3 linked regions of the Homo sapiens genome follow. The protein of the gene in region 1 purifies or fractionates together with the protein of each later gene. This does not show direct contact. Each region holds a gene or a part of one and is shown on either strand. Other genes may lie near its edges.

The links.
Region 2: the proteins of PPP1R12B (region 1) and ANKHD1 purify together in Homo sapiens (affinity purification with mass spectrometry, with the first as the bait; one large-scale study listed by BioGRID). This does not show direct contact.
Region 3: the proteins of PPP1R12B (region 1) and TNKS purify together in Homo sapiens (affinity purification with mass spectrometry; one large-scale study listed by BioGRID and IntAct). This does not show direct contact.

Annotation. Positions count from the first base shown.
Region 1 is NC_000001.11:202,421,662-202,425,317, reverse strand, and holds part of PPP1R12B (protein phosphatase 1 regulatory subunit 12B), read right to left. Parts: intron 2,699-3,656; coding exon 2,580-2,698; intron 1-2,579. UniProt on the Homo sapiens protein: Regulates myosin phosphatase activity. Augments Ca(2+) sensitivity of the contractile apparatus.
Region 2 is NC_000005.10:140,506,187-140,509,842, reverse strand, and holds part of ANKHD1 (ankyrin repeat and KH domain-containing protein 1), read right to left. Parts: intron 3,009-3,656; coding exon 2,866-3,008; intron 2,059-2,865; coding exon 1,845-2,058; intron 207-1,844; coding exon 31-206; intron 1-30. Other genes in the region: ANKHD1-EIF4EBP3 protein, read right to left, coding at 31-206, 1,845-2,058, 2,866-3,008. UniProt on the Homo sapiens protein: May play a role as a scaffolding protein that may be associated with the abnormal phenotype of leukemia cells. Isoform 2 may possess an antiapoptotic effect and protect cells during normal cell survival through its regulation of caspases.
Region 3 is NC_000008.11:9,709,364-9,713,019, forward strand, and holds part of TNKS (poly [ADP-ribose] polymerase tankyrase-1), read left to right. Parts: intron 1-591; coding exon 592-683; intron 684-778; coding exon 779-857; intron 858-3,656.

The sequences.
Region 1 (3,656 bases):
TTCAACAGAACATAAAGACAAAGGGGACATTATTTTTACATTATAATATTTGTACAAAGCTATAAACTTCCAAGTCTTTTTACATGTTATATGACTTTAGTTTCCCAACAATCCTTCAAGGTAAATATAATAGATATTACAATCTTCATTTAACAGATGAGGAAATAAAAATAGAAAGGTTAGGAATCTTGCTCAAAGCCACAAAACACATTAGTGACAGAACTTGCCGCTAGAACTCCGATATCCTGGGTCCCTCTCTGTCATTCCTCTTCTGGGTCCCTATCCACTCACTATACCATAGGATGAGTATCCAAAATCTTGGTTTCAGGTATTGATATACTTTAAAAATTGAACTATCTCTAAAGTTCATTTCCATATACAGGTAAATACACTGACTTGAAGATATATAATCTAGGACAGATTAGTAGGTGATCTGCAGTTTAAAAACCTGTCTGCTTTCAAGGGAATGCAGATTTTGTTTTCCTTAAAAACATTATGAAAGAACTCCAAGAGTTCCTCCCTTTAGCCAATAACTCTCCAATATCTGTGCCAGTGAAAAGGGGTTAGGGTGAGGCATACCCCATTATACAAAATAATAAAATGTCCCAAATACAAACATACCCATTCAAAAAGTTTTACACTCATTAGCAGTCTTTGTGCTTGGTCTACTCCCTTTCAGCTCTTAAAAGAGAAACTGCTGGGTGCGGTGTCTCATGCCTGTAATCCCAGCACTTTGGAAAGCCTAGGTGGGTGGATCACCTGAGATCAGAGTTCGAGACAAGCCTGATCAACATGGTGAAACCCTGTCTCTACCAAAAATACAAAAATGAGCTGGGCATAGTGGTGGGCGCCTGTAATCCCAGCTACTTGGGAGGCTGAGTCATGAGAATTGCTTGAACCTGGGAGGCGGAGGTTGCAATGAGCTGGGATTGCGCCACTGCACTCCAGCCTGGGAGACACAGTGAGACTCTGTCTCAAAAAAAAAAAAAAAGAGAGAACCTGTCAACTACCTAAGTATTATCTGTGTGATTTTGGGAGATGGATGGGGTGAAGAGGTAACCAATTTAAATCAGATCAGTACTCCAAACACAAAGAAGTGTTAGCAGTGCTGGAAAGTTAAACATATATATGAATACCCCTTTCAACAGAGTATGTTCCCTCATTGAAGAGTCAGCAATCAAAACAGAAAAAGTGGTTGCTCCAATCTAAACTATTTTTTAAAACTGATTTTTTTAAAGTTGTTTGTACATTTTAAAGCAAATCTTAGGAGATAAAACTGATTGAGGCTGGAGGTTAAGCTAAGCATAAAATTCTTCAATTCAATAGCGCACAAAGCCAGGCGCTATAGCTCACACCTTTAATCCCGGCACTTTGGGAGGCCGAGGCTGGTGGATCACTTGGGGTCAGGAGTTTAAGAACAGCCTGGCCAACATGGTGAAACCCTGTCTCTACCAAAAAATACAAAAATTAGCCAGGCATGGTGGTGCACACCTGTAGTCCCAGCTACTCAGGAGGCTGCGGCAGGACAATCACTTGAACCTGAAAGGCAGAGGTTGCAATGAGCTGAGACGGCACCACTGCACTCCAGCCTGGGCAACAGAGTGAGACCCTGTCTCAAAAACAAAAAACAAACAAACAAACAAAATAGGACAGAAAAACTATACATGAAAGGCAGCAAAAGCAAGTAGTTACTGACCTAGAACATCACTATATTAAGGTAGGATCAGCATACTTTCTCCAAAGGGCCAATATGTATTTTCAGGTTTGTGGTTCATCCAATCTATCACTACTACTCAACTCTGCTGTTGTGGCACAAAAGCAGTTTTGGATAATATGTAAACAATGCGCATAGCAAGAATTGGCCCTGACTGTTCTAAAAGTTCATATTGGGAAAGACCACTGGAGCTAAATCCTCTGGGATGAACTGCAAGATTGTGAGTAAGGTAGTTTAGCAGAAGGACTAAAAAAAAAAATCACTACAAATCTTGTCCGCAGAGTTTTGTGGTGGAAAAAGAACCCAGGGACTTCCAGGTTGAAAAATTCCATCCTATTCTGTGAAATCGATTCTCCTAAAACTATAAAATAAGAATAAGCATTTTTAGAATATATTATTCTAAGTTAGCTTCCTCACCTTAACAAATTATCATACTAATTCTCATGATTAGTTACAATAAATATCTTTATCAGCACCACTTTTAGCTCTCAACAAGGGAAAAGATGCAAAGTCACAAACTCAGTTTAGCCAATTCTCAAATTTACACTGTATCCCAATACCATGCATACACACAGTACTGTGCATACACACAGTCCTCATCAGGTCACTCTTAATTGTATGATGGGTATGCAACCTCTGAATGGCAAAAACAAGGAATGATTGGTCATCCTTTTGACATCTGGCCTATTCTTGTCTGAGTTATTATGAGGATACATGATGCTGGATTAATGATTAATGCAGTGCAGACAGATCAAATCCTCTCCTGTCATGTGATAGTGAAATGCTCTGCACAGCAAATGGATTATTTTCTGTAAATGGCAGTGTTTGAGAATCTTTCCTGGCCCCCTCCAATCCATGAGGTTACCTTGCTTCTTTACTTGCTCCAGAAGAAGATCCTTCATGGCTGGCTCTTCTGCAAGGTCAGAGGGAACTTCACCTTCACTATTGACAATACCTACACTGGCTCCGTGATTAATGAAATACCTGCGTAGACAAGATCCAGGATCAATATTATCTGTCAATCTAATATAAATTTTACCCATGCATCTGGCATTCAATACACAGCGAAGTCTCTATTTTGAGTTTAAAATATGGTCTCAGTTAAGATATTCCATTATTAATTTCTATGTGCCTTAAACTTCAATAATTAAGACTGAAGGCTTCCCCATTTCCTGACTAGAGCAATGCCAACAAACAGGATTTCTTTCACACTCATATTACTAACTCCCATCCTCTCACTCCCAGTGGATGGCAAGAGAATTTCTAAGTAACATAAAGAAGGCATGCAGCCTTAAACTTTCCCAGTGCCACACTGGAGCTTATTAAGTAGTGCTGTGGGTGTGAAAATAGAAGAATAAAGTGTGCATTAAAATTTGCATAAATCTGCCTAAATTATGCCTCCATAAAACTCTCCTATCAACCAGACATCCACATGAAATCTTCCTGTGCTGTAAGACGAAACTAAATTACTTAAGAAGAAATATTAAAATGTTAAATAATTAAATTCTAAATCCAAATAGAATACTTGATTCTGAAGAAGAAAGGTCTGATAATTCAATACCTTACATAGATCCTTTTTGATTTTCAGAGTGCTTTCACATAAAATTATATCATAAGTCTTAGGCAACATTATGAAGTAGGCAATGTGGGTATTATTACCATGACTTTAAGAAATTGAGGTTCATACATATTAAGTAATTTTCTCAAAACCACATAGCGGGTAAATGGCAGAGGGTACAGCCCCAGTCTTGACTTCAAATCTAGTTCATCTTTTCTTTAGATCAAGTCACTTTTGGGCCAGTGAGAACTCTAATAACGCTAGGAGCTCTATCAAATACTCAGAAGTGTTTAAAGGAAAAAGAAAAATGATTCAAATTAGACTTCAATCCATTCAACAATTCAATAAACATTTACTGGACCCCTACTATATTGAAGAAACCCC
Region 2 (3,656 bases), on another chromosome or scaffold:
AAGTTCTACATATAATAGAAAAGTACTCACCTATGAATCAGGAGTTCACAAAATTTGTAGTGACCTTTGTCTGCTGCTATTGTTAAAGCAGTATCTCTTGAGGAAGGCACAGGGGGAGCATTAACATCTGCTCCTTTATCAAGAAGAACTCTTCCAACCTCTGCATACCCTCCAGAAGCTGCTTCCATCAAGGGGGTAAGACCCGTCTGTTTAAACCAATAAATTATGCAACTAAGTTACATTTCTTTTTTTAACTATTCCGTAGACCAAAACTAAGCTACATAATTTCTTTAAAAACCTGAGGCAATTAACTTTTAAGACAATTCTAGTTCTGATTAGCTCTCATAAAAGAGCTAAGCAATATTTTGCCTTGAATTTTACTAAACAGCAGTAGAAATTGTTAGATTCAGACGTGCTAGAATGAACTTAAAACATGTTATCTCATGCTAAAAACAATTCTGTAACTTCTATACTTTTGTGAATTTACTCAGATAATTTCTTTGCATAATGAATAGAGATATTAAAAATAAGTAGATTAAAATCACTTTATAAATTTTTTGCATATGTGCCTTTGGTACGTTAGTCTCCAACATTTTTTCAAAGGACATTTCCTACTGGTACTATCCAAAATAACACAGATTTCTCTAGGACCTTTAATGGATGAGTGGCACACAATGAATACTTGTAATAGAAAAAGACAAATTGAATGACAGGAAAGACTCATTTCTCTTTGTGTGGTAAAAAGCCAAGGAAAAACTACACTTCCTCATTACTTAGATTAAAAGAATGTAAATGTTGCACTAAACTTTAAGAAGTAAAAGGAATTTCAGGGAAGAAGTACGAGATTTCCAGTCAAATCTTTCCAATTTCAAATGAGCACTAGATTCTCTGTTGACTAATTATTAAAAATTCTACCCAACCTACGTCTTTCCAGAGTTCTAAGAACCTTGCAGTTCTAAGCAAAGAAATTCAAGCCAATGACATACTAACTCCTATTTTCTTTCCTCTGTGTGTGTTTCCTGCATCTATGGAGATTATCTTATGACTTTTCTCCTTTATTCTTTCTTTTTTGTGGGGGCGGGGGGTGGGATGGAGTTTCTCTCTTGTTGCACGGGCTGGAGTGCAATGGCGTGATCTCTGCTCAGTGCAACCTCCACCTCCCAAGTTCCGGTGATTCTTCTGCCTCAGCCTCCTGAGTAGCTGGGATTAAAGGCGCCTGCCACCACGTCCAGCTAATTTTTTGTACTTTTAGTAGAGACGGGGGTTTCACCATATTGGTCAGGCTGGTCTCAAACTCCTGACCTCATGTGATTCACCTGCCTAGGCTTCCCAAAGTCCTGGGATTACAGGAGTGAGCCACCGCGCCCAGCCTCCACTAACTCCTATTTTCTTAATACCAAATAGTCATGAAACTGTCAAAATCTGCCATGGTCAAATTAGATGTTAGCTGCCCTAATTTTATAACTTGTGAATTAAATTTTTGCTTGGGATTTTTACAATGATAAGCACATACCTCATTAAAGGTGTTCTTTAAAAGTCTACAGTGTAAGAGTTAATACAAAATAATCTTACTACATTCAAAAGTTGTAAGCTGCAGTATTAATAGAAAGCTACTCAAGGCTGAGGTTGGGAAAAGTACTAATTCTGTTTTCTTCATTGTCCTTAATAAAAGTCATGATGGTGACAGTATGTCACTCACTATTATACAGCATAATCCCTCAACTCTGCATTGGTATCAGTTTTAATTTATGATAATTTAAAATATTATATTCAATTTGCGTTAAAATGCCATGTTCTTTCTACAGAAATGTATCTGAAATAGTTGACAAGTAAAAAATGCTTACCTTTGCCCTATGTTCAACATTGGCTTTTCGGTCCAGAAGCAAACTCACTACTTCTGCTCGGCCCTGGAAACAGGCCAGGGTGAGAGCCGTGTTCCGATTGGTCTCTATTTGGGCATTAATGTCTGAACCCATATCGAGCAGCAATTTTACTGCAGGAACATGTCCATTCATTGCAGCCAACATCAGGGGAGAAATACCTAGTTTACTCCCAGTCCTAAAGGGGGAAATGTGCTTAGAAAATTAAAATAATATGTTGCCTATTATTTTAGAAAAGCATTAAAGATGAAAAGGTTTCACTAAAAAGAGAGGTTTCTAACATCAATGAATAGATTTTACTTGTTTCGACCAATAATAAAGAATAAGAAAATGTCACAATTTAAAACATAATTTCCGGCCAGACATGGTGGCTCATGCCTGTAATCCCAGCACTTTGGGAGGCCAAGGAGGGCAGATCACCTGAGGTCGGGAGTTTGAGACCAGCCTGACCAACATGGAGAAACCCCATCTCTACTACAAATACAAAATTAGCTGGGTGTGGTGGCGCATGCCTGTAATCCCAGCTACCTGGGAGGCTGAGGCATAAGAATCGCTTGAACCCCGGAGGCAGAGTTCGCGGTAAGCCAAGATCGCGCCATTGCATTCCAGCCTGGGCAACAAGAGCGAAACTCCATCTCAAAAAATAAATAACTTAAAAAATAAAATGTAATTCCTATTTAGGGATTATAAATTTCCAACTATATAAAATAAAATACCGTTTCTGAGATCAGATGAGATTGGGCACGTTTAGGGTGGTAGGCCATAGAACAAAACACTTTTTGAAATGAGACCTCTTTATAAGCAGCCACATTACTGAAATAAGCTGAGATTACTTATAAACAAACACATTATAGGTATAATCGTTGGCTTTGCAACTTTAGTACTATCTTAATTTAAAATGTATCTGTCTAAACGTTAAGAGGTAGACATTTAAGTCCAAAGTAGTAACTTACTAAACATGAACAATAAAATGAACAGGCAATACCTTGAATTAATTTCTGCCCCAGCATTAAGCAGAATCTTAATGATATTAACATATCCTCCAGACGCAGCTAGACTCAGTGGTGTATAATCAGATACGTTCCTATGTTCTTTATTTGCACCTCGAGCCAGCAGCAAGTCTACCACCTACAAAGTAAAATATGGATAGAGAAGAGAGTTTACACCAAGGGCTCAACTTATAATGAAGGAAACACAAAGAAACAGGACTTATAACTTCCTTATCTAAATATCTGATATTTTAATTACATTTCATTAGACCCTAAATATTGAAATATCAACACTAGAGAAATGGATTCAATTTCAGGAATTCAGAGTTTTGAAATCCCAATTATACTGCAATAACAAGATGTTACCCTTTCTATTTGCCATTTATTGGGCAATAAATTTGCACTTCATATGTGTTAGAATTGTGATTCATTCAATCCGAATAAATGTAAGGATTAAGATAATTTTTATTTGGCTTTAAGGGCAAGAAACAGATTTTTTAAAAGGGGATTTATGGCCAGGCATGGTGGCTCATGCCTATAATCCCAGCACTTTGGGAGGCCAAGGCAGGAGGATCCCTTGAGGCCAGGAGTTCAAGGCCAGCTTGGGCAACATAATGAGACCTCATCTCCACCCTCCTGTTCCCTCCACAAACCCCCGCCAAAAAAAAAGGGCATTTACATTCCCATAAAAGTTAACAGAAGTACCCATTCCTCAGAAAGTATATGGAACATGTTAAAATACGTGCAGGGCCAGGCATGCTGGCCCATAACTATAATCCCTGTACTT
Region 3 (3,656 bases), on another chromosome or scaffold:
TTATTTAGTTGAAAGTAGTTTTTTATTTTTAAATTTTAATACGAATATTAAAATGAAGCAGAATAAAAAAGTTGTATAAATATTATGTTAAAACCTAAAATTTCTGAGAATATTTTTCTCTAAACTGCTTCAGTTCTATCATTTTCTTGCTTATCCTTGGGCATATAAACGTCTCCTGTAGTGCTGGGAGTACCTCTGTAGAAGAGCTTAGAAATACTGACTTGTGTGGCTGATGGCCTAATGAAAGATTGAGTAACTTAGTTATAGATTTCTGTAGCGTTGCAGAGGCATACGTATTATGATGCTCTCCATGGAATATATAGTGAATATTTATTGATTGGCTAAGCCAAAAGAAATAAGATCTCTCTTAATGTTTAAGAGCATAATTTCACCTTGGTTTAAACGCTTACGTTTTGTATTTCCACTATACGTAGAAAGAATATGGATCATCTCTGTGATATAAAACATATACATATGTTCTGATACTCTGAGATAACAATGTTTTAAATGGTCAGCAGATACTGTTCAATTCCAAGAGCTACTGTACATATGGAAGTGTATTTTATTAACTTGGTTTTGTTTACTTTATAGCACTGTGCTGTGGCCTCTCTGCATCCCAAACGTAAACAAGTGACAGAATTGTTACTTAGAAAAGGAGCAAATGTTAATGAAAAAAATAAAGAGTAAGTATAATTGCAGAAGGAGTTGTTCAGTTCCTAAAGAGGAAATGCAATAAAAGAGAGACAATTACCTTTTCTTTCTTTCCTCTTTTCTGTAGTTTCATGACTCCCCTGCATGTTGCAGCCGAAAGAGCCCATAATGATGTCATGGAAGTTCTGCATAAGCATGGCGCCAAGGTGAGGCACACACCTGAGCAGAGTGCCAGACTCAGCACTGAGCAGCCAGCTGCTCTTAACACTGCTTCTCTCTCTCCGATTTTTCTGAAGAAACTAATTTTATAAAGGACTATTAGTTCGTACTTAAATTCATGGATTCTCCTATAAAGCTGATTTAGATCTTGTTTCTAATAAAAATAATTACCCGTGTTTCTTGATCCTTTAATGTCACCCTTCTGTAAAGCAACAAAATATAGCTATAGTCATTTGAAATAGATTTCATCTTTACATTACTTTCAGTTAATACTATACGGATATATTTTGATAGTGTCCACTTGAATAACAGTTTATCAGAAAATAAATTATGTTAAATGATAGCATCAGAATAGCTCTACTTATTCTAAAAAACATTTGTGGCCAGGCACAGTGGCTCACGCCTGTAATCCCAGCACTTTGGGAGGCCGAGGCAGGTGGATCACGAGGTCAGGAGATGGAGACCATCCTGGCTAAGACGGTGAAACCCCGTCTCTACTAAAAATACAAAAAATTAGCCGGGCGTGGTGGCGGGTGCCTGTAGTCCCAGCTACCCAGGAGGCTGAGGCAGGAGAATGGCATGAACCTGGGAGGCGAAGCTTGCAGTGAGCTGAGATTGCGCCACTACACTCCAGCCTGGGAGACAGAGTGAGAATCTGTCTCAAAAAAAAAAATTGTATGCCTTCAGATTTGTAATAATTTTCTCAACCTCTACACTAAAGAAATATGACATATTTAATAATTTTTACTGGCATTTTCTGAATGGTGTAGTCTGAAACTTTGTCAAGCACTTAAGAGAGGAAAGAAGCAAACTGGTTGTTTTTTAGAGGTGACTTGAAATTATAGATTTTTTCATTCTCAAGAATGTATATTTCAAAGCAGTTGTCTCCAAAGTAGGGTATAGACTCCCTATGGAGCATACAAGATGCCCTGTTGGAAAAATCCTAGCATTTCAATTTATAATACTTTTATTTAAGAATAAGGAAATTCAGATTTACCAATATTGAATACAAAGATGATGCCAGCACTCTCACTAGGTCCACGTGTCAGCCATTGTGACTCGTGATGTCAAGGTTTCCTGAGGTAAGAGTGGGACTTGTTAGTATCGAGGGATTGACAGTGGCAAACTCACTTGTTTGTTCCCTTTCAGCATATTTTGGCATAGTGTACTTTACTTGTGTCCAAATGAGTTGAATTTATGGATATTATCCTAAATGGTAGAACTTTTATAAATATCATACTTGATCAGAGTAGTGACCCTGACAAGGGACACAGGGAGTGACCCTGACATGCTTTTATAGTGTAAAAAGGTGGTCTGGTTATTTTGTGAAGTAGTATTTTAAGGTGTTGTCATAGTTGTGTTCTTTTTAATGAAAATAAAAGGGTTCAAAATTTGTTAATAGTTCTCTGAGGACAAATGACCATGACTTGCATGTAGATACCCTTTAAAAAGGAAACATAATCAGATCCTTAAAGGTAAAAGTTACACACTTTAGGTAAATGATAAAATAACTGCTTTTTTAAAAGAAACTTTAAAAAATGAAGAGAACGTTTTGAACATAGATTTTTAGAAAATGTTCACTTTTCTGTGATTTTGCTGAAAAATGATATAAATGAATCACCCAGCCGTCATATCTACATAATTTAAACACATAAAAACAGAATTTTCTCACCTGTTCAAAAGCCTTCCTTAATTTGGTTTTAGGGTAGATTTTGAATCTATTCAAAACATTGTAATGCAGCACTTCCTAATAACTTCGCAAGAACATCAGTAAAGATGGAATTTTACTACAGAATTTCAATGAAAGCCTTAGCATAATTAGTAAATTACATTAAAATTAGGCATTCTGATTGAGTAGGCATAGTTAACAATGCATTTATTTCATTGGCTCCATGAATCTGTATGAAATCTTTGCAACTAATATAGCCATTCAAACTAATTATCAAAAATGAACTTAGAGCCACGTGTAGTGGCCCGTAATCACTCCTGTAATCCCAGAGCTTTAGGAGGCAAAGGCAGAAGGATTGCTTGAGGCCAGGAGTTCGACACCAGCCTGGGCAACACAGCAAGACACTATCTCTACAAAAAATTTAAAAATTAGCCAGTCGTGGTGGTGTGCACCTATAGTCCTAGCGACTCGGGAGGCTGAGGCAGGAAGATCACTTGATCCCAGGAGTTTGAGGCTGCAGTGAGGTATGATCATACCACTGTACTGCAGCCTGGGCAACAGAGCAAGACTCTGTCTCTAAAGAAAAATGAAATGAACCTAAAATTAAACCCTCAAATTCCTAATATCACAATTTTTATAAGTTTTTTTAAATGTTTAAACTACAGTCAATGGATATTTTCTAGCATAAGTAATTAAAATATGTTTTGGACAGGTACCATAGCCTATGCCTTAATCCCAGCACTTTGGGAGACTGAGGTGGGAGGATCGCTTGAGCCCAGGATTTTGAGATCAGCTGGGCAACACAGGCCAACCCCGTCTCTACAAATAATAAAAAAAAATAGCCAGATGTGGTGGTGCATTCCTGTAGTCCCAGCTACTCGGGAGGCTGAGGTGGGAAAATCACTTGAGCCCAAGAGGTCGAGGCTGTAGTGAGCTGTAATCATGCCACTACACTGTAGCCTGGGTGACAGAGCAGTACTCTATCTCAGAAAATAATAATCATGAAATCTTTTTAAATTTTTAATTATTTCATCTCTTTCTCATCCTTCATAAATTCTCTTTGTGTAAGTTTTATAATAGTATAGCACTTCTTGGTTATAATTTACAAAGAAATTCA